Linked DNA regions of Homo sapiens. The protein of the gene in region 3 interacts with the protein of the main gene of each other region in a biochemical or structural test. Each region holds a gene or a part of one and is shown on either strand. Other genes may lie near its edges.

Region 1 (7,088 bases), on a different chromosome or scaffold from region 3:
AAGCTGGGGCTCATCTGTCCCTGAAAGTAGACTTTGTATGCTTCACAAAGCACTCTCAAATACATTAACCCATTTAGATGACAACTCACATCTCTATCAGTCAGGACCAAGTATTATTATCCCTAATTGGGAGAAAACAAGGGCAGGGGAGAGGGATAGAAAAATGGCTTGCCTAAGACCACACAGGAAGCAAGTGACAGCTAAGTCAAACACCCAACTTCCATCTCCCACTCCATGCCTTGTTATATTACAATGTCTGCTTTCTTTGATAAGGTTCACAGAGTTGACATTTTCCATCATCATAATTAAGCTCCTTTTCTGTTTTCCACTTATTAAACTGATACATACCATCTGGCTTTGCACTGCTTTGCTGATTTTCTATGCAGCAATGAGGCAATCCTAGACCACTGATTTTTCCCATATTTCATTACCGCTGCTTTCAGAATTTCATCCTAAAAAAAATTGCCAAAGAGTACATTCAGTCACAAAACTCCAAGTGGGAAAAGACAAAATTTAAATTAACTCTGATAGGGCTATTGGAGAAAGAGACATATAACATGCACATACACACCACCTAGGTTAAAAGACTAAGGATGAAAACCTCATTAACTATAATAACAGCAACCAAGAATTGAGAAATTAAGAAGAAATCCCTTAGAAAGACAGCTACCCACCCTTACACCACACTCTCCAATAAATTGGGAGTGGGAACAGCCCAATCTGAGAAACCCTACTTTATGACAAAAATTAAGAAAAAGTATTCTTCAACGTGTGGCTGTCCTTCTCTTCAAAAAGGATAACTAAAAAACACAACAACAACAAAAATGTATAACTCATTCATTTATACACTCACTCAAAAAACACTTCCTGAACATCTACCTTGAAACATCTACCTTTCCCTTGGGGAAAGGTCTTATCAAACAGGACATATCCAGGCCTCAAGAAGCAAGTTGGGACTCTGGTGAATATATTCTCCAATCCAAGCCTCCTGTCTCAAGTTTATACATGGCATTTCCCCTCCAGCCCCTTAACCCCAACTATGACCCAAGAATCCACATCTCAGGTCTAACCTAAGAATTACATATTTCTACCCCAACCCCACTAGTCAGCTCTCCTTCCAATTTCCCCCCATCTCTAGATACCATTTCACCAGGGCACCCATTGCCATGTGGAATGCACCAACCTCAAGGAAGCCTGGCAAGCCAAGCCAAAGACAAGAAAGTTAATGGAGCCATAGATGCATGCACTTAGGCGATTTTACTTCTAGGCTTTTTTTCCCACATTGGATTTGAGGTACGTGCCTCTTGAGATACCCCACTCCATCCTCTACATCTCCCATGATCAAAGATACTTTTTAAAAAGACTGCAGAGCTTTGACCACTGCATAGGAATCCTACTGTTACTTGATTTTATATCTGTCTCTCCCTCAGAAGTCATCTCTTCTCCAATTTAAACAGTCTGGTTCCCTCGGTGGAAGCTGAGGCAGTTTTCATTGTCTTTTTTGTAACTTGGTTGCAGTACAACTACACTTAAACACATTTTCAATTAAATAGATACAGCAGATACCTACTCTACTTGATTCATTCTGCAAATACCTGTCGAGCAACCTACTTCATGTTGGTTACTGTCCTAGGTCCTAGGGATACCAAGACCTGGTCCTCTCGCCATGCTGTCTGGTGAGGTGAAAGAGCAACTAGCTCTTACTCAGAGGCTACTATGTGCCCTACTCTGATCTAAATATTCCAAACGTATTAACTCGTGTAATCCTCAAGAGAGGTTAAGTATTATTATCCCAATTTAGAAAAAGTAGAAAACTGAGGCTTTCAGAAGTTAAGAAACTTACCGAGTACCACACAGAGGATGTGATGCTTACAAAAAGACAAAGCAAGTTTTAACAAACGGAAGAAAAAGGTATCATGAGAATATCGGGGGTGCAATTAATTCTTACAGAGATTCCAAGAAGTGTTTCCGAACTAGGTTTGAAGGATGATCAGAAAGATGTCAAGCGCTAGGAAGGCAAAAGATGTAAAAAAAAAAAAAAAAAGAAGCCATAAAATGTAACGAAAAAAAGACACAGAGCATGAAAAGACATGATGTGCTCCAGAAACTGATAAATTCGGTACACTCTGAACACAAAACGCACTAAAATCTAATTTCTATTTCACTCCCACTCTACTGCCCTTTGGCTCACCAATGGCACTATCCACTACGTTTCTGGAAACAGAGACTATCCTAGGCCAGTTTTTCCTTTCTGGCTTCTATCTAGGCAAAGGCAGTGACAGAAAGAGACAGACCTTGGGATCTGTCGAGATGGCAGACAGGTTATGCCCTGATAACAGATAACCAGAGAGATGCGGGCATAAACGGGCTCTCTGAACCTGGCACTCAAACTGCTTCCCCTCTGCAAGGAAGTCAATGGAGACACAAAGTTGTGGCCACGGCAACTTCTTTATTTCTGAGTATGAGACAGAGTCGTGGTGCCTGGACTAAGAGTGGATGGTGCCCCGGGGGACCAACTCTGGCTGAGTTGGAACTCTGAGTTCTTCCCGGGGCCGGGGGGGGCGGGGGGGCGGGGTGGGAGGGGGCGTATTCAAGTCAACAAATGTTCACTCAGGGCCTAACAAGTGAGCTTGGAGCCGAGTAGCCAGGTGGTGACATCACGGTCCCTGTCCTACTGGCGCTCGCACAACACGGGGCCAGACACACGGAAAGGGCCCCAAGGGTCAGCCCCCGGGCTGCCCTCCACGCAGACCCCACAGGGTCTCCTCGTCGCCCCCCCGACCTCCGCGCGCGTGCGCACAAGCTGCTAGAGGGAGCGGCGGGCAGCGGACGGCGGGAAAAGGAGACTTACCTCGGTATTCCTCCATACGCCCCCCTTGATCATAATTCGAGGCATCTTGGCGGCAGGGTGTCTCGGCAAGCAGCCGAGAGGAGCTTCAGAGAAGTAGTAACAGCGATTGGGCCACCGGACTCAAAGCCGCCACTTCCTCCAAGCGCGACCTTCTGCTTTGAAGATCTGCGCAAGCGCAAGGTGGGAGGGGGCGCAGAATAGCAAGTCTCGCGAGATATTGGGTGGCTGAAAGGGAAAAAGTGTCTTGTGGAAGCTCAGCTGCAGGAAGACTAACACAAAACCATCAAACCACTCTGGCCAAAGCGCCTTACGCCCCGCGCATGTCCAAAACAGAATGGAAGAAACTACGGCTCTCGCGAGATAGCGGCGGTAGCGCTTGGCTGGGAACTTAGTGGTGGGATTGATCGTGACGTCACCGAGTGGCAGAGGGTGGGAACGTCACGCGTACGGAATTTCAGCACAGTTGCTCCGAAGAAGGCTTTGTTAATTTATTAATCTAGCCCTTTCAAGTATTTCAGTAATAGGAATTTATTCACAGAATACTCAGGAAAATCCAGTAGTTTATTTAAGGCTCAGTTTCCTAACCTGTAAAATAGAGATCATAGTAATGCCAACCTCACAGGATTGTCGTAAGGGCTAAATGAGATCATAGACCCAGCACAGTATCTGATCCATAATAACTGCTGCAAAACAATAGCAGCTATTACTGCAAGGAGGGCAACGCCAACTTCACCCCGTCCCCAGGTGATCCAGGCTTCTTCCAGAAACCTGCAGAAACGTCACGTCAGAGTTTTTAATTCATCGCCCAGTCTGGATTAATAATGCCATTGGTACGCACTGGTATTAGACAAAGTCGAGTTGGGTTGAAATATTGTGAAATCTTGGCTTTCTCATAAGTTTGGGTAATAACCTTACTGAATCTCAGTATCCTCATCTGAAAAGTGGAGCTAACAATACCCGCCTCGTAAATGAGGAGGCAGATTAACTGAAACATAACTAAAACCCAGTGAGGTAGGGATTGGCAAACTCTCTGCTACCCCACCCCAATTACTCATGCAGTCTCCTTCATCCTTCCAGAACATCTCTGGCTCCATCCCTGGAAAATATCAAAATATTTAGTGGGTTGGGAAATGCCCTATTTATAGTACTTAGTATTTATATAGTGCCTATCTCTTTATATTTCTTCATTTCTCCGTTTGCCTCTTCTGGAAGAGCTACAGAATTTTCTTTTTCCTTTTAGCTTTTATTTACACACATTCTGTGCAATTATGGTCAGCAAGAGGGCATTTTCCATGGCCACCCTGGTAGTGTTTGCCACTCAAAGGTTTATGCTGGCGGGCAGCCCGCCCTTGAGCTGTTTACCCACTGTGTGGTGTATAAGAAACCATTGGACCTGTGGCCAGTTAAACTCAAACAAAATGTTTTCATTTGGACCTCTCCTGTAATGGGGCGGTTTTTTTTTAATTTGTTATATTTAATTTTTGTGGGTACATAGTACACACATATTTATGGGGTACATGAGATATTTTGATACTGGCATACAACACATAATAATCACATCAGGGTAAATGGGGTATCCATCATCTCAAGTGTTTATCTTTTGTTTTACAAACAATCCAATTATAATCTTTTAGTTAATTTAAATGTACAATTAAATTATTTTTTACTATAGTCACCCTGTTGTGCTATCAAATACTAGGTCTTCGAGATTTTAACACTGGAGCATAGAGGAGGTCAGTCTCTACTGACTGCTGAACATCCAACACGTGACACCCAGGAGTTGTCTACCACCATGTTTTGGACTAAGGGAAAAAAGCAGGTAAAGAGAGAGATGTAAGTCCTGACCATGTCAGAGTACCTGGATCCAGCATGTTCCTGAGTCCCAGCTGCATTCCTGTCCTTGCATTCTGATTATTAGTTTCCTATTTGTGTTAGCCACTTGGAATTGGGTTTCTATTATTTGTAAGGAAGAGTCCTAACAATTCCAGAGATGGACCAATACTCTGTCAGAGGCCTTTCAGATCTCACATTCCAAGAGTTGATGAAGGCTTCTCCCTCCCACTCAGGGCCACCTCTTTACCATATGTTACTTTTGTGAGAACTAGAAAAAGGTGCCCCTTCCTCAAGACACTTTATGCCACATGCTGGAAAATTGTCACAAAATACTGGTGTTCTGAGAACAGGGCACTCTATTACAAGAAAATTGGATCTACCATCTCCACTATGTGAATTCCACCCCTAGAGACATGCATTGTACAACTTACTCATCCAGGTAAAACAGCCCTGTCAACTGTCCCTCATTTCACCTTTGAACATGCAGATTGTATATTCCCTTTCAGAATTCAGAAAAATGCAACATCATGGAAGTTCCAGGATGTCTGAAACCAGAGCACTGTAGCCACAAACATCAGAACACAAACACACTGTTCTCCAGGATGGCCTGCTTGGCCAGCCTCCCCCACCATACTACTGCAGCCTCACCAGCCAGGTATGGGAACCCTTACAAAGAGGCCACAGGGACTGCCAACAATCTCTTGAGGGACAGCCATAAGAAGCATCTATCGTTAGGCAACCAGACTATATGGTCAGTCACTGTGAATCTTTGGTAAAGTGAGTGGCCACTGCTAAATAGTCTCACTCACCCAAGGCATTTTTCCCCAAACATGTTCCTTAGAACACCAGTTACATAAAATACTCCATTTAAAAAAAAACAAAAAATAAAAAAAAACATGGTTTTTATGTCCTCCCCTCTTGCAGAGTCACTGAAATTAAAGCCTGTAAGAAGCTGTCAGATGAAAAAATCTGTTTCTCCCTGTTGAGAGTTGAATTGTATTCCCCCCAAATAGATATGTTCAAGTCCTAACCCCTGCTACCTGTAAATGTGACCTTATTTGGAAATAGAGTCTTTGCAGATGTAATCAAGTTAAAATGAGATCATACTGGAGTAGGTTGTCCCTAAATCCAATGAGTAGTGTCCTTATAAGTGGAGAAGAAAAAAGATACAGACACACAGGGGGAATATCATGGGAAGAAAGAGGCAGAGATTGGAGTGATGCAGCTCCAAGCCAAGGAATGCCAAGGATTCTGGCAGCCACCAGAAGCCAGGAGAAGGCATGGAACACATTCTCCCTCTGAGCCCCAAGAAGGAGCCAGCCCTGCTGACACTTTGATTTTGGACTCCCAGCCTCCAGAACTGTAAGAGAATACATTTCTCTTGTTTTAAGCCACTTAGTTTATTGTGCTTTCTTGTGGCAGCCCTAGGAAGCTAATACACTCCTTTGTTAATACAGCAGATCCTTGAATAACATCATTTTGTGCAAGATCGTTTCATGATAACATTGATGAGTCCAGGCATGGTGGCTCATGCCCGTAATTCCAACACTCGGGGAGGCCAAGGCAGGAGGATTGCTTGAGCCCAGGAGTTTGAGACCAGCCTGAGCAACATAGTGAGACCCCATCCCTACAAAAATATTAAAAATTAGCTGGGCATGGTGGTGCACACCTGTGATCCCAGCTACCCATGAGGCTGAGATGGGAGGATCACTTGAGCCTGGGTGGTCGAGGCTGCAGTGAGCCATGATCACACCACTGCACTCCACCCTGGGCGAGACCTCATCTCAAAAAAAAAAAAAAATCCGCTTGAGGCCAGGGCCACTGTCTGTGTGGGTTTCTTCCAGATACCCTGGTTTCCTCCCACATCCCAAAGCTGTGCAGGTGAGGTTCATTTGCAAGCCTGCAGTCTGAGTGAGTGTCAGGGTGTGTGAGTGTGCCCTGCAATGGGATGGTGTCCTGTGTGCTGTCCAGAACTGATTCCTGCCTTGTGCCAGGATAGGCTCCGGCCACCTGTAACCCTGAACTGGAATAAGCGGGAGTACATTTCTTGTTTTTATTAATCTTTCTTTTCTTTTCTTTTCTTTGAGACAGAGTCTCACTCTGTGCAGGCTGGAGTGCAGTGCCACAGTCTCGGGTCACTGCAGCCTTGACCCCCACCCCACTGGCTCAAGCAATCTTCCAACTTCAGCCTCCCGAGTAGCTGGGACTACAGGCGTGCACCCCCATGCCTGGCTAAGTTTTGTATTTTTTTGTAGAAATGGGGTTTCACCATGTTGCCCAGGCTGGTCTCAAACTCCTGAGCTCAAGTGATCTGCCCCCCTTGACCTCCCAAGGTGCTGAAATTACAGGTATGAGCCACCGTGCCCAGCCTAATCTTTCTTAAATGTATGCATAGCTTACACTT
Region 2 (6,156 bases), on a different chromosome or scaffold from region 3:
GTAAAAAATAAACCTTTGCCACGGAGAGCACTGAGATGTGGGGGATGCTTCTTACCACAGCATCATGTAGCCCATCCTGACTGAAACACCTGACTTCATGTGGAAAGGAAGGAAAAGATCTCAAGAACATAAAGAGGAACCTGTCCAGAAGCATACGCCTGTTCATTTTTAAACATATTGATTCAATAGTCATTCCAAGCATATTCAGGTGGGTGAGTGAGGTGGACAGTTTTGTTTATAATAAACCTTGGTTAGTTTTCACCAAATCCACTGGCTCAGGCCCCAGTCAGTGGACACAGTCACTGGGCCTGGAGGGAGGCCCAGCTGGGGACACAGAGGTGGGCCACGGGGCCGGGAGGGGGCAGCTTTCTGGAGGAAAAGCCAAATGTTAAAATCAAATTAAATAAAAAATTTAGTTTCTCAGCCACACTAACCACATCGTCAGTGCTCAAAAGTGACATGTGGCTGGTGGCTACCATACTGTACAGCACAAATACAGAGCATGTCTAAGTACTCATTTTCCTTATGACTCCGAGCTTTATTTCCAACAATGTCCGTCATCACAGAAAGTTTCATCCAACAGTGCTGAAGGAGTTAAGATTAGTCACTGCATGAGGAAGCGGGAAAATGCCTGATCCTTACAACTCACATATAAAAGACTTCATCAGAGGTTTTCCCAGATTTGACAACCATCCTATTTAAATGACATTACCAATAATGACTTGTGAAAACTGAAACTTTTAGTCTATGATTTTTGCCCCATATCCATGTTAGAGGAAGAACTTAAATATCATTCTCTCTTTAGTAACCAACACAAGATTGTCCTAAGAAGAAAAAGATGATCAAAGAGTATGCAGGGTTAGGTGCAGTGGCTTATGCCTGCAATCTCACACTTTGGGAGGCCAAGGTGGGAGAACTGCTTGAGCCCAGGAATTTGAGACCAGCTTGGGCAACACAGCTAGACCTCGTCTCCATAGAAAGTAAAAAAATTAGCCGGGTATAGCGGCATGCACCTGTGGTCCCAGCTACTCAGAAGGTTGAGGCAGGACAATCCTTTGAACCCAAGAGGTTGAGGCTGCAGTGAGCTATGCTTGTACCACTGCCCTCCAGCCTGGATGACACAGCAAGACCATGTCCCCCAAGAAGAAAATAAATAAATAAATAAACAAACAAACTAACCAGAGTATGTAGGTTAAAAAAAAGAAAAAAAAAGATGGGAAAGGTATCATAAAGGTGCCAGGAAGTTAATAAAAATACTTTTCAGTATTTTGTAGAGTGTTATGCTGTTTTAAATATTGTAATTTATGCCTCTAAAAATTCCAAATAAATATATGCTTTCATAGTTAACTCAGTATTTGCAATTCATATTCCTTTTCTTAAGAAGCACTACCCCCTTCCTCCCAAATAAACAACTATACAAGCTTCAGTTCTTATTAAATCTTATCTGCCTTGGATAGAAATGATTTTTAAAAGTAATTATGGTTTTAAGCCAAAGCCATTGGCAGCCCTCTTTCCTTTTTTTTCCTACTAAAATTAAATTGGAATCGTTCCACATCTGCACTGTGTTGAATACTGTTCCTCTAAAATTCATGTCCACTAGAACCTGTGGATATAACCTTATTTGGAAATACAGTCTTTGCAGATGTAATCAAGTTAAGATGAGGTCATCCTGGATTAGGGTGGAAGTTAAATCTAATGACTGGTGTCCTTATATAAGGAAAGGGATATCTGGACACAGACACACAGAGGGAAGAAGGCCATGTGACGATGGACACGGAAACTGGAGTGATGCAGCCGCTGGCCGAGGAAGGCCGAGGTCGGCCAGCAGCCACACCAGCTGGAGGAGATGAAGGAGGAGTTTTCCTGGGGCCTTCAGAGAAAGCCCGGCCCTACTGGCACCTTGGCTTTGGATTTCTAATGTCCAGAAATGTGAGCGAAGAAAACTGATTTATTGTGAAAAGCCGTCAGTCTGTGGTGATGTGTTAGTACATCCCTACGACACAAACACAAAGGCCTAGGCACTGATTTGATCTAATTTCTCATCAGTCTAGCCTATTACTTAGGTGTGATTATTTATTAAAGAACATTTACAACACTGTAAGTTTTATTCAGTTCAAATATCACATATTAGATATACAATACCAATTAATTGAAATGAACAGTACAAGAATACATGAAGTAAATATCATAACATTTAAGTTTCGTCTCACTTAGGCAACAAGAAATGCTGAGTAGTATTATTACATATTCAAACCAGACTTAAACTTCAGAAACAGAAGGCCAGATGAGTGACCTGTATCACAGGATATGACAACACATCACCTATCTCCAAACAAGAAAAAGCATGATTATTAAGTTTATCTACACCAGCTTATTTATTCAAATTTGCTCTTCTTATTAAACAGAAAAAAAATACACATTCAATTCCTAATTGGTAAAATCATTTCACAACTCTAAAATTAAGATGCTAATGACACCACTCTCCACTAGCATGAAAGAACAATATATGAATAGAGTACACAGCTTTCCAACCTATTAACAGGTTCTTATTTTCAGAATTGAGTGGGAAATTGTGTGTGGGGTAAACAGCATGAGAGAGAAGTCGGTCACTGGTTGAACTGTTCACAGTACAAAAAGGTGACAAAACTATGAAAGTGAAAATACTATGGTAAATAACGAAGGCCCCAATGCAATTTTTGAAAATGATCCCTGAAAAGCAAAAGGTTAGAGATACTCATGTTGCAAACTCCATCTTCATCCTTCAAAGGTCACATGCGCCAACCAGCCGAGACTCATGACAGTAAACTTCCTCAGGGTTCTCTATTATGATCAGGGCCAATCCTTCACCTCGAGGGCTGTCGTAGTACCCCGGGAGCCTCACATGACTCTCTCAGCCCCTCCCTGCTCTGAGTGACTGAGAGAACTTCCTTAGCTGCAGGGCTGCAGGCAGGTGCTTCTGCTCCTGAGCTCCTAAACACACCAAGGGGTGCTTGAAGGTCCAGGCCCGCCCCTCTCTAGAGGAAAAACCTACTCATTTGAGACTACAAACCTCTTCTAGAAGCTGTAACCTGAAATGCTAGAATGAGCTTATATTAATCATGCTTTTTTATAATGTATAATGTTTTCACATCTTGGGGACCTCACTGACTGGGGAGAGACTGCCCTTCCCAGGGCAGGCCAATTCTTAGAGATAGCAAAGGGGTCCCTTGGGAGTGCACCTTTGCACACTAACCAACTCAGAGTCCATCTCCTCGATTTGACTCTTCCACTGCAGAAGGCAGTATCCCCTCACCCTGATCACCCAGGGCCAGGCACCAGGCAGCTGGAGACCACCCCTGTAGCTACTGCCCAAGACATTCAAACCTGCCAATCCTACACTCTGCCCCCGCCCATCTTCGCCTTTGCCATGGAGACACAGTGGAAAGCTGCTCGCCTAGTTCTGCCTCCTGACCACTCTGGTGCGTCCTCCTCCTGTGGCCCTGCGTGGCCTGGTGCGCTCCTTTTCTCCAGAAATGCAAGTAACAAACTTTTCTTTCAATGACAGCAGCCTCTCCTTTATGAATTAAACGTGGGTACATTTCGATACCACGGGCACAGTGAGCAGGGTGAGTCCGTGTGTGGCACAGGGCATGCCTCGCCTCTTGGCTGCGCGTGGCTTACTAACTGGACCCCCACCCTGGGGAGCATGGCCGCTGCTGGCATGTTTGCACTTTGGCTGCACCACGTATGCTGTGTCTGCCAGTGTCTGTGACAGTCCAGCCTAAATTATAAGAGGACTGAGCTCATTCAGTCCTTGGTGCTGCAGACTAGGGTGATGTCAATCGCAGTCCCCTACACAGGACCTTCTGGGTATAATTGTATAATTGGATGCACTGGGTCCCTCTGAATTCCCTACCTGGACATACCTACTTTCTTGGCTGGTGGTCTCAGGGCAATGACGGTAGCTCCCTCCACAAGGAGCAAGGAACGGCTTTCCCTGTGAGCTTGTGTTGGATGAGAGTCTGATAACCGAGCCAGCAACGCTGAAGTCAGTGGTGGGCTGCTCACCTGAGGGGCCCTCCCCCAGCATCCAGTGAGGAATTAATCGCACTCCTGGGCAAAGGATCTGGGTGTTGGTCTCCAAAGCGCTGCAGGGATCCTCCGGCCATGCGGCCGGTGAGAGGCACCCTCCTCACAGAAATGACAGCCGCCAAAAGGTTTAAATGTTGCTTTAAGAGCCTTGCAGCTGTTGTGACTCATTCCTCAATCCGGTGGGATGCAAAGGATCTATCCATAGAGACCAGTGGCTTGAGGTTTGAGGAAAAGGGGAAGGGGTGGGACACTTTGTTCCCACTCCCCTGAGACCTGCAGAAGCCCCTGAGCTACGTGAGCCTGTAACCACCCCCCACCAGTGTGCCTGGGCACTCTGAACACCCTGCCTGTCAACATGCTGGGACCGCCTCCTTCCAACTAAATTGCCACAAAATCAGAAAAAAAGGAAAAAGCGAGAAAAAGCCTAGGTACAAGGGAAAAAACATTAAAGGTAACTAAATAGACTGTGTATTTATGCGTGTGAGTGCATATACATACACATACACACATATATACACATGCAGATAGGCTATTTTAACGCAAATATATAATAAATTGTACATGTATATGTACATATGCAGCTAAACGGAAGGTCCCTAATCTGATCCAATTAGAAATCCAACGCTTATACACTAAAAATGTATACAACAAATTATATACTAATATTACAAATAAATAAGATGTATATACTGAAACATTTAACCAAAACATAAAAGGGTGCCTATTGGCTTTTGTGTCTCCATAACTTAGGTTCTAAATTAATTGTAACATTTGCTAAAATGTACCCATTGACAAAGCTTCATAGTCTTAACACTGGGGCTCAAATTACAGTTATACCTGGAGATCCCACTAAATCTAAACATTGTACCCCTATAATCTTTTTAAAAAGGCAACTAAATATAAAATGGGGGGTGGATGGGTAAGGTATGCTTCACTTTAACTGTAGCCTGTCTAAATTTCCTGTGGTCATAGTACCCAACGCCCTAATATCCCATATTGAACACAGACACTCTAATAAAACAAATAATAAATTAAAATTAAAGTCAGTCTTTGGCAGTTATAAACTAGCTTGATAAAATGATGCCCCATGGACCTCCAGTTAAAACAGTTAATATGAGGTATTCAAGGATTAAAACTTACTAATTAATAAAGGGGTGATTATACCCTTGTTTCTCCATTGAACAGCCCAATCTTTCCTATCCTTAAACCTGGAAAAAAACAAGTGTGCCTCATGGTGGATTACTACAACCTTATTGCTGCAGTCCCATCCATTACCCAATTTCCATTATTATTAAAATTATTAATTCTACACAATAAATAACTGGCCAATATTTTGCTCTTACAGATTTGGCTAACATGTCCCATTAAGTGTCTACTTGCACAGCTTCTTGGCTGCCGTTTGCCTTCTGCCCTGAGGGGCACATACACCTTTGCAGGCCACCCACAGGGAGCTCCACGGCTTTGCCATGGCACACAATGTCTGCAGACAGGGTCTTCACCACATCCGCCTTCTCCAGGAGCACAAATGAGGAAACTCATTGTCACACTCATTAAGGACATACAAGTCCAACATCTTTAGATACTTTCGAGGTTCTGATGGCAATGTAGTCCTCATTTACAAATTTTACTTAATCTTCTTGCTGCTGCTTACAAATCAGCTTGCTTTAAATGGGGCACCCTCCATAAACAACCTCTATAATCAAACCTTAAAATCCATGGGCACTCCTGTTGGTGCCCTCAGAGACCCCTTCATTATAGAAGCTCTGGCAAGCTCTATGCAGCCCTGGAGTCTCTGGCCCACTTAGGATGGACATAAGGTGCCTAAGGGCTTTGGATGCAAGAAACTATCCCTCTCAGCCTCATGCTACCCTATTAAAGCAGTAAATGGCTGGATGCCTACTGGGCTCTCCTGGACACAGAGGCTCTCAAAGACCTAAGCCTAGGACCCCAATCTCCAACTGTCCATTATAAACACCTGACAAGCTCAGCAAAACTACCGATGCCTCCTTAACACAGGACAGAGTCAAGCCTGGGCCCTCTGGTGTATTCTACCCACAGGAGGGTGGTCTCCCATGTCCTCAGTCC
Region 3 (7,029 bases):
CTGCTCATTTCTCACCCTGAAAAATCTATAGAAAAGAACTGGCCAAGAGAACTGAGGGCTAACCTGGCACAGGTTCAAGTGAAACCATATGGTAATTTTCTGTTTATTAGTGTAACTCCAATTCAAACTCTCAGCCCTAATCACTGAAACACTTACGGGGAAGTTGTTGTGGACGCTCAGGAGGGAAGAAATCTCCTTTTGGTAAGGCCCTCTCATCCTGAAAGAGAAAGAAAACAAACAAATCTCAGTATCCAGTGCAGCAGTGTTTGCAACAGCAAAAGACTGAAATGGCCCCCCATCAAGAGAGGACCAGCTAAACACATTATCCACGCCATGGAGTAATACGCAAGGGTAGAAAGGCATGCGGAGCATGCTTCCTATTTTATGTCAAGGGAAAAGACACATGGATATTATTGTGGGGGATGATGGGGACCTGGGCAAGAAGTCCAAGTAGGACTCACACTATCTTCACACTACCTTTTCATGCCTTTTGACTTTTGAGTCACGTGAATCTATCATCTATTCAAAAAACTTACCTACTCTATTTAGAGTAATGAAAAAATTGCTTTATAGTTTATCTTTTTCCTGAATTTGAGTCCCAACTAGACTGCCCTCAGCATGTTCCAGTCATGCCTGTAGTAATTATTATCTTTGGCACAGTTACGGCAGAGCAAATGTTTATTAAGATTGAAGTGCTCCAACAGACCTTTAAAAGCTGTCTGAATCAATGACTTAATTATGTTCACAACAGATTTGATGCTAACCAAACATTATACTGTAATACTTTGAAAAACTGGAACCCCACATATATAACCATTCTTTGAAACGGATCACTTGCTCAACCAGGATACCCAGGTGACTTCCTGAATGCGCCATGAACAGTCAACTGTGCAAAAGGAAAAATATCTAATGCAGTCAAGAGCTGCCATGAGCAAAATGTTTTTTTTTCTTCTTTTTTTTTCTTGAGACAGAGTCTCACTCTGTTGCCCAGGCTGGAGTGCAGTGGCACGATCTCGGCTCACTGCAGCCTCTGCCTCCCACGTTCAAGTGATTCTCCTGCCTCAGCCTCCCGAGTAGCTGGACTACAGGCGCGTGCCACCACGCCCGGCTAATTTTTGTATTTTTAGTAGAGACGGAGGAGTTCCACCACGTTGGTCAGGCTGGTGTCGAACTGCTGACCTCATGATCCGCCTGCCTCAGACTCCCAAAGTGCTGGGATTACAGGCGTGAACCACCACGCCTGACCAGCAAAATGTTATTTCTCTCACAATTTTGCTCAACATACTGCACCCTATTTAACTTAGACTAATCCACAAATATTTCATAGTGGCTATATGTACACTCTTATTAATTCCATGTTTTTGCTAGACTTGAGTATATCACAGAGAAAGATCCTACTGACTTACCATCTTGACGTGCATTGGTCTATCAAATAGCAGCTGGCCATTGAACATAGCTGGTATTACAATTAAGGCTATTTCTTGCAATTCTAAAAATGTGCACAAGAGAAATACAAAAAGAAAGAAAAATACTCCAACTGCTACCAGTCCCTCTAAGTGATGAATTTATGAGCAATTTCAATTCTTCATTATACTTTCAACAATAAACATAAAAGGAACAATAAATAAAGCTGGCGGGGAGGACAAGACAACTTCCGCTTATTCCTTAGGTGTGAAGCTTCATTCGTAACCTTACAATTTCACCAAACCATCCTCTTAAGCAGTGGCATCAAGGTTCTCTGAATGTGACCAATGGGCCAGGCATCTACCACTATCTAAACTGAAGGACCATGTTTTCTGGGTAAGACATGCAGTGACGGTCTTGTCTGAGTTGTATGAATGTGCTCCTGTGGGGTACTCTCCAAGGGATTAAAAACTCTAGGCTAAGCCTAGGGTCAAGGAGAAGTGGCCTCTTCCAAAATGATGTCTACTCACTGGAAAGAGTGAGGTCCTATAAGGATGTATTACACATGAAACAACAACCCCACTTTCTCTCTAGTAGCACATTCTTTGGACTTCCTCCTTCAAACCTAGACTCTTCTGAAAAGAAAACAGTAGAAAGACTCATGGGCATATGCCCATGTTGTAACCATCCCCTCTATCCACACTGTATTGAATCAATTCCACCCCCAGAGAACCTTTTTTTTTTTTTTTTTTTTTTTTGAGACTGAGTCTCACTCTATCACCCAGGCTGGTGGTGTGCAGTGGCGCAATCTCGGCTCACTGCAACCTCCACCTCCCGGGTTCAAGCGATTCTTGTGCCTCAGCCTCCCGAGTAGCTGGGATTACAGGCACCCACCACTGCGCCCAGCTAATTTTTGCATTTTTTAGTAGAGCCGGGGTTTCACCATGTTGGCCAGGCTGGTCTCGAACTGACCTCAAGTGATCCGCCCGCCTTGGCCTCCCGAAGTGCTGGGATTACAGGCGTGAGCCACCGTGACCGGTCCGGCCCAGAGAACCTCTTAATTCCACAGTAATGCACTCCCCCTAGTCACATAAAAAACATGAATACACACAGTCACCTCTTCCTCACACAAACCTACATTACTAACACAGCAATTTAGGTCAAACTGTTCATAAGTTGAATTCCTGCAGAAGGATACATATAGCTTGCACAGCTTCAATGGACTGTTCAAAAGTAACAGTGCCTATTCCACGACTTTTTCCATCTTTATCTTCAAGAATGTCTGCTCGGACCACCACACCAGCCATACTAAATACTTCCTTCAGTTTCTTCCAGCCAACTTTATAATCCAGCTAATCGAGAGAGAACGGGGTAAAAACCTCAATGTAAACATCTTAAGAAACACAACATTTTTACTACATGAATGATACATGCTTTGGTTGGAAAAAAGTATTAGGAAATAATGTCACAAAAACTAATCAACTGCAATGGAAATTTTAAAATAGGATTATAAAGCCTGGCCTTCACTGTAAATAAACTGTACCTATAGTAAATATATTGTCTCTTTTCTCAGAAACTTAAGTCACCTCATACTTCAAATTAATACTCATTTTCTGAACATTTTTAAAAAATTGTTTCCCTGATAAGCTTTACCACTCCCCACCCCACCCAACCTACTTTATTCTAAAAATATTTCCCCTTGCAGATGGTGGAGGTATTATCATTCACCCCAGACACAACAAGAGGAAGGTGTCAGTGCACTTCTGCTCGTACAGTCTTACTCTGCACCAAAACTGCATAAAATAAACCAACGGAGAATGCAGACTCGGTTACTGCTTGCGGAAACACCTGCGAAACTCAGGAATCACAGCCCCAACGAGACCACGGTCAAGCCTGTGACTTAGGAATGCAGACAAAGCCCGCCTATAAGGCTGATTTTTAAAGAAATCAAGAACAAAACCCTTCTTTACATTTTTCTTCTCAAATGTGAGAATTACTTTTATAACATATTGACAAGGTCATTTCATAAAGTTCTGATTTTCTACTTTAGACGATGGTTCTGTTTACTTACATTTGCTACAAATACTGTGCTTCCAAGTCTTCCAGCCTGTAATGCATGGATAATCTCATTTGGGATGTTGGGATTATTTAGGATACTGGGTGGGATAGTAATCATTCCTGGGCCACCTGGTCCCATACCCATCCCACCAGTCGTAGCCATCACCTTTTGCATTGCTCTCCTGGCATGTTCACCATCAGGATCCTAAAACAAGCACAAAAGGTGTTACGTTTAACTGACCCAGTACAACGCAAACCATGCTTGCACAGTAAATGATATTCTCAAGACTTAGAAACTGAAAGGTTGTTTGGAAAGCATCTCTCAAATCTATTAACAAGAAAGTCAAATGAACTCAACTACCAGCTTAGAAGAGTCCAGCTAAAGAAATAGGAAAGGAAGAAAAGGCATGAAGTGTAGCACTAAAAACACAGCTCTCAATTGCACTAAGTAAAAAAGAAAAGCAGGGTAGGGAGGGAAACATGATTAGCTGATATAATGTAGAACCGCCAGACTGAAATTAGAGCTTCATGGGCTTGGTATAGCTGAATCTTACTAATTCATCAATGGGGTTTTGTAACTTCTGCAAACCCCGTCAATGGCTTCCAGAAGTTTGAGAAACAGTTCTAGACCACACAAGCGCCCCCATCCTTCAAGTCCTTCAGGTGTTGGAGGCGTGTGTGTGAGGGCTGCGCAGTAAAACAACATCTGGGAAGGTCTGTGAAGCTCTGTACTGACTCTCTTCTTCAACTCTCTGTCCTGTCAATTACCACCATCAGCACTAAAAAAGACATCATAACACATGAGAGACCTTAGACCCTACCAAGCTTCACTCTGAATCTACTCATCTTCCTCCCCAAGAGAAGAGGTGAAAAGAAGTTAAGAGGGATGTTTTTTTGAGACAGAGCTTTGCTCTTACTGCCCAGGCTGGAGTTCAATGGCGCGATCTCGGCTCACTGCAACCTCCGCCTCCTGGGTTCCAGCGATTCTCCTGCCTCAGCCTCCCGAGTAGATGGATTACAGGCACCCCCCACTACGCCCAGCTAATTTTTTGTATTTTTAGTAGACAGGGTTTCACCATGTTGGTCAAGCTGGTCTTGAACTCATGACCTTGATCCACCCACCTCAGCCTCCCAAAGTGCTGGGGATTACAGGCGTGAGCCACTGCGCCCAGCCAAGAGGGATTTAATCAACAAAAAAACCTTCTTCCTCAAGGAATATATTTGATTCAGATGAGATGTGAAAGCAGGTTTGAGGAATAACAAACTCACTTTATTTTTTTATTTTTTAGACAGGGTCTCACTGTTGCCCGGGCTGGAGTGCAATGGTGCAATCTCAGCTCACTGCAACCTCCACATCCTGGGCTCAAATGATCCTCCTGCCTCAGCCTCCCAAGTAGCTAGGACTACAGGCATGCGCCACCATGCCTGGCTAATTTTTGTACCTTTTGTAGAGAGGGGGTTTCACCATGTTGCCCAGGCTGGAACAAACTCACTTTTTAAAAAAAGAAAAAAGATGGGCCAAGAAGAAGGGTCAGATGGAGTAAAACTTAATGGCACAAACCCACGGGCTCATGGTTTGAGAGTCCCTGAGACAACAAGGCCTCAGACAAATCACAGATATTAGAAGGTGGTCAGCAGCCACTCAGGATCTGCTTGGCCACCACCCCAAAGTCCTTGCAGGGAATGGCTGCTGTAGGCTATGACCGACACTCTTCATTAGAAACAACAGGCTGGCACTTGCTTTGTAAATGCCGTCTGGGACCATGACCGTCTTTCCCTAATTCCAAAGTAGGATCACTCAACAATTACACACAGTATCCGCAGTGTTAAGCAAGAGCTTACTTCTTTGACTTTCAGTGGTCTTCCGCTCAGACTATGCTTGTTTAGGACTTCCGCAGCTTTTTTCATGCTCTCTTCCATCTTGAATTCAACAACACTATAGAGTCAAAAGGAAACGAGTCGAGTGAAACCAGTCCTACAAGTTAGAAGGCTCAAATACCAATAAGTAACTAGACGATACTTACGCACATCCCTTTGGAGGAAGCCAGAGACCAGTCAGAAGAGCAAGGAAGGGGAAAAAGAAAAGAAAAAAATAGTAAATATCAATGACAGTTATAAACAAACTAAAAATATGATTTATGTCACAAAGTTAGTCTTTTAAAATGAACCCTTCTAAGGGGAAGCTGACAGAAGTGCCTCGCCTCGCCTTCCTTGTTAAAAGCTGGGCTCCTTAATATCTCCTTCTCCTACGCGTTACCAGCATTGCACTAGAGCTGCTGACATTTAATAAGCAGACCTAAATTCAGGGTCTCCAAGAAATCACACCAACTTTAGATCTGCTTCCCTCTGTACTCAATCGAGTCCTTACCATATTCCTCCTAAATCCATCCCTTCCGTAAGTTAAGCTCATCCTTTTGATTATTCTAAGCCATTCTATTGCACGACAGAAAATAGTTTATGTTCTCTTTAAACTAGGCCAATTTTGAACATTCAGGTTTTTAATATTTGGTTTACAATTTACTGGCACAAAGGCAACTTTTCGGAATCTTTGGTTCACACAACTTTCAAATTCAGCAAACAACCAAGAGTAACATTTTCTAGACAAGAACACACGTTTTACATTAATTATACCACCGCTAAAATTCCATGCATAATTCACACACAGCCAATTCCTCTGTTAACAAAGAGACAATGCTGCTATTGGTCCCCAGTTATCCAAATTGGGCATCCAAACAGAATACCAAAAAGCTCTTTGGCCAGCCATTTGGAAAAGCGGGACTCCCATTTGCAAATCCCCTCCCACCCCACTCAAATGTTTGGCAAAATCAAACATAGCTACTGTAACATGAGCACTCACTGCCTTCCTGATTTCATTCGATTCCACGCCACCATACAGTTACATTTTTCATGTAGTAAATCCACAGAAGAAATTCTCTCAGACACTTACCCTTGACTTTCCTTCAGCGTCCATTAAGAGCTCCACGTATGTTACCTCACCAACTACAAATCAGTTTCCAGACGACACATAAACCAAGGGAGAAAAGCCAAGAAAACAATGGGAATTTAGAACAATCATCAGCAACCTTGTATGGAGCCTCTGCCTTATAAGAAAGCCCAGAAACACTCCATATTCTCTAAACCACCGAACTAGGCATTACAGGTGTGCAGTAAAAGTAGGTGAAAACACGTTAACAATATGTCCTTGATTTTCCTCCCACCACAAACAAGCTATTCCACAGATTTCCGTATCAATTTCCCTGTCTGGAAGACTCATTCATGACTAGAGGCAATCCAAATCTATAGGAAAGAAGTCTGCGTGATTTACTTTTCTGGGGAAGGGAGGAGGTTTTACACATACGCTCTCATTGGTGGCAAGCAGGTGAAATGCATACAAATTGCGATGCCATCGGGCTGAGCTCACATGCTATAAATACAAGGACGCACGTATGCGAAGGTATAAGCTCACAGGCACACACGGCCGCAGGGCCAGCTTCACAGGTGAGCAACTCGTGCAATTGTACAGAGCCCCGCACTCAGGGGCCCTGAGCTTGGTTTAATGCTGTTATC

The links. The genes of interacting proteins can lie anywhere in the genome.
Region 1: the proteins of HNRNPM (region 3) and CDC5L form a complex in vitro, tested with the Homo sapiens proteins (one study listed by BioGRID and IntAct).
Region 2: the proteins of HNRNPM (region 3) and LONRF2 form a complex in vitro, tested with the Homo sapiens proteins (one study listed by BioGRID).

The regions. Positions count from the first base shown.
Region 1 is NC_000006.12:44,383,632-44,390,719, reverse strand, and holds the start of CDC5L (cell division cycle 5-like protein), read right to left. Parts: upstream 3,015-7,088; 5' UTR 2,897-3,014; coding exon 2,852-2,896; exon of another isoform or gene 2,801-2,851; intron 453-2,800; coding exon 349-452; intron 1-348.
Region 2 is NC_000002.12:100,271,361-100,277,516, forward strand, and holds the end of LONRF2 (LON peptidase N-terminal domain and RING finger protein 2), read right to left. Parts: 3' UTR 515-6,156; downstream 1-514.
Region 3 is NC_000019.10:8,461,962-8,468,990, reverse strand, and holds part of HNRNPM (heterogeneous nuclear ribonucleoprotein M), read right to left. Parts: intron 6,463-7,029; coding exon 6,410-6,462; intron 5,495-6,409; coding exon 5,487-5,494; intron 5,399-5,486; coding exon 5,305-5,398; intron 3,668-5,304; coding exon 3,476-3,667; intron 2,757-3,475; coding exon 2,603-2,756; exon of another isoform or gene 2,377-2,602; intron 1,490-2,376; exon of another isoform or gene 1,457-1,489; coding exon 1,407-1,456; intron 218-1,406; coding exon 157-217; intron 1-156. UniProt on the Homo sapiens protein: Pre-mRNA binding protein in vivo, binds avidly to poly(G) and poly(U) RNA homopolymers in vitro. Involved in splicing.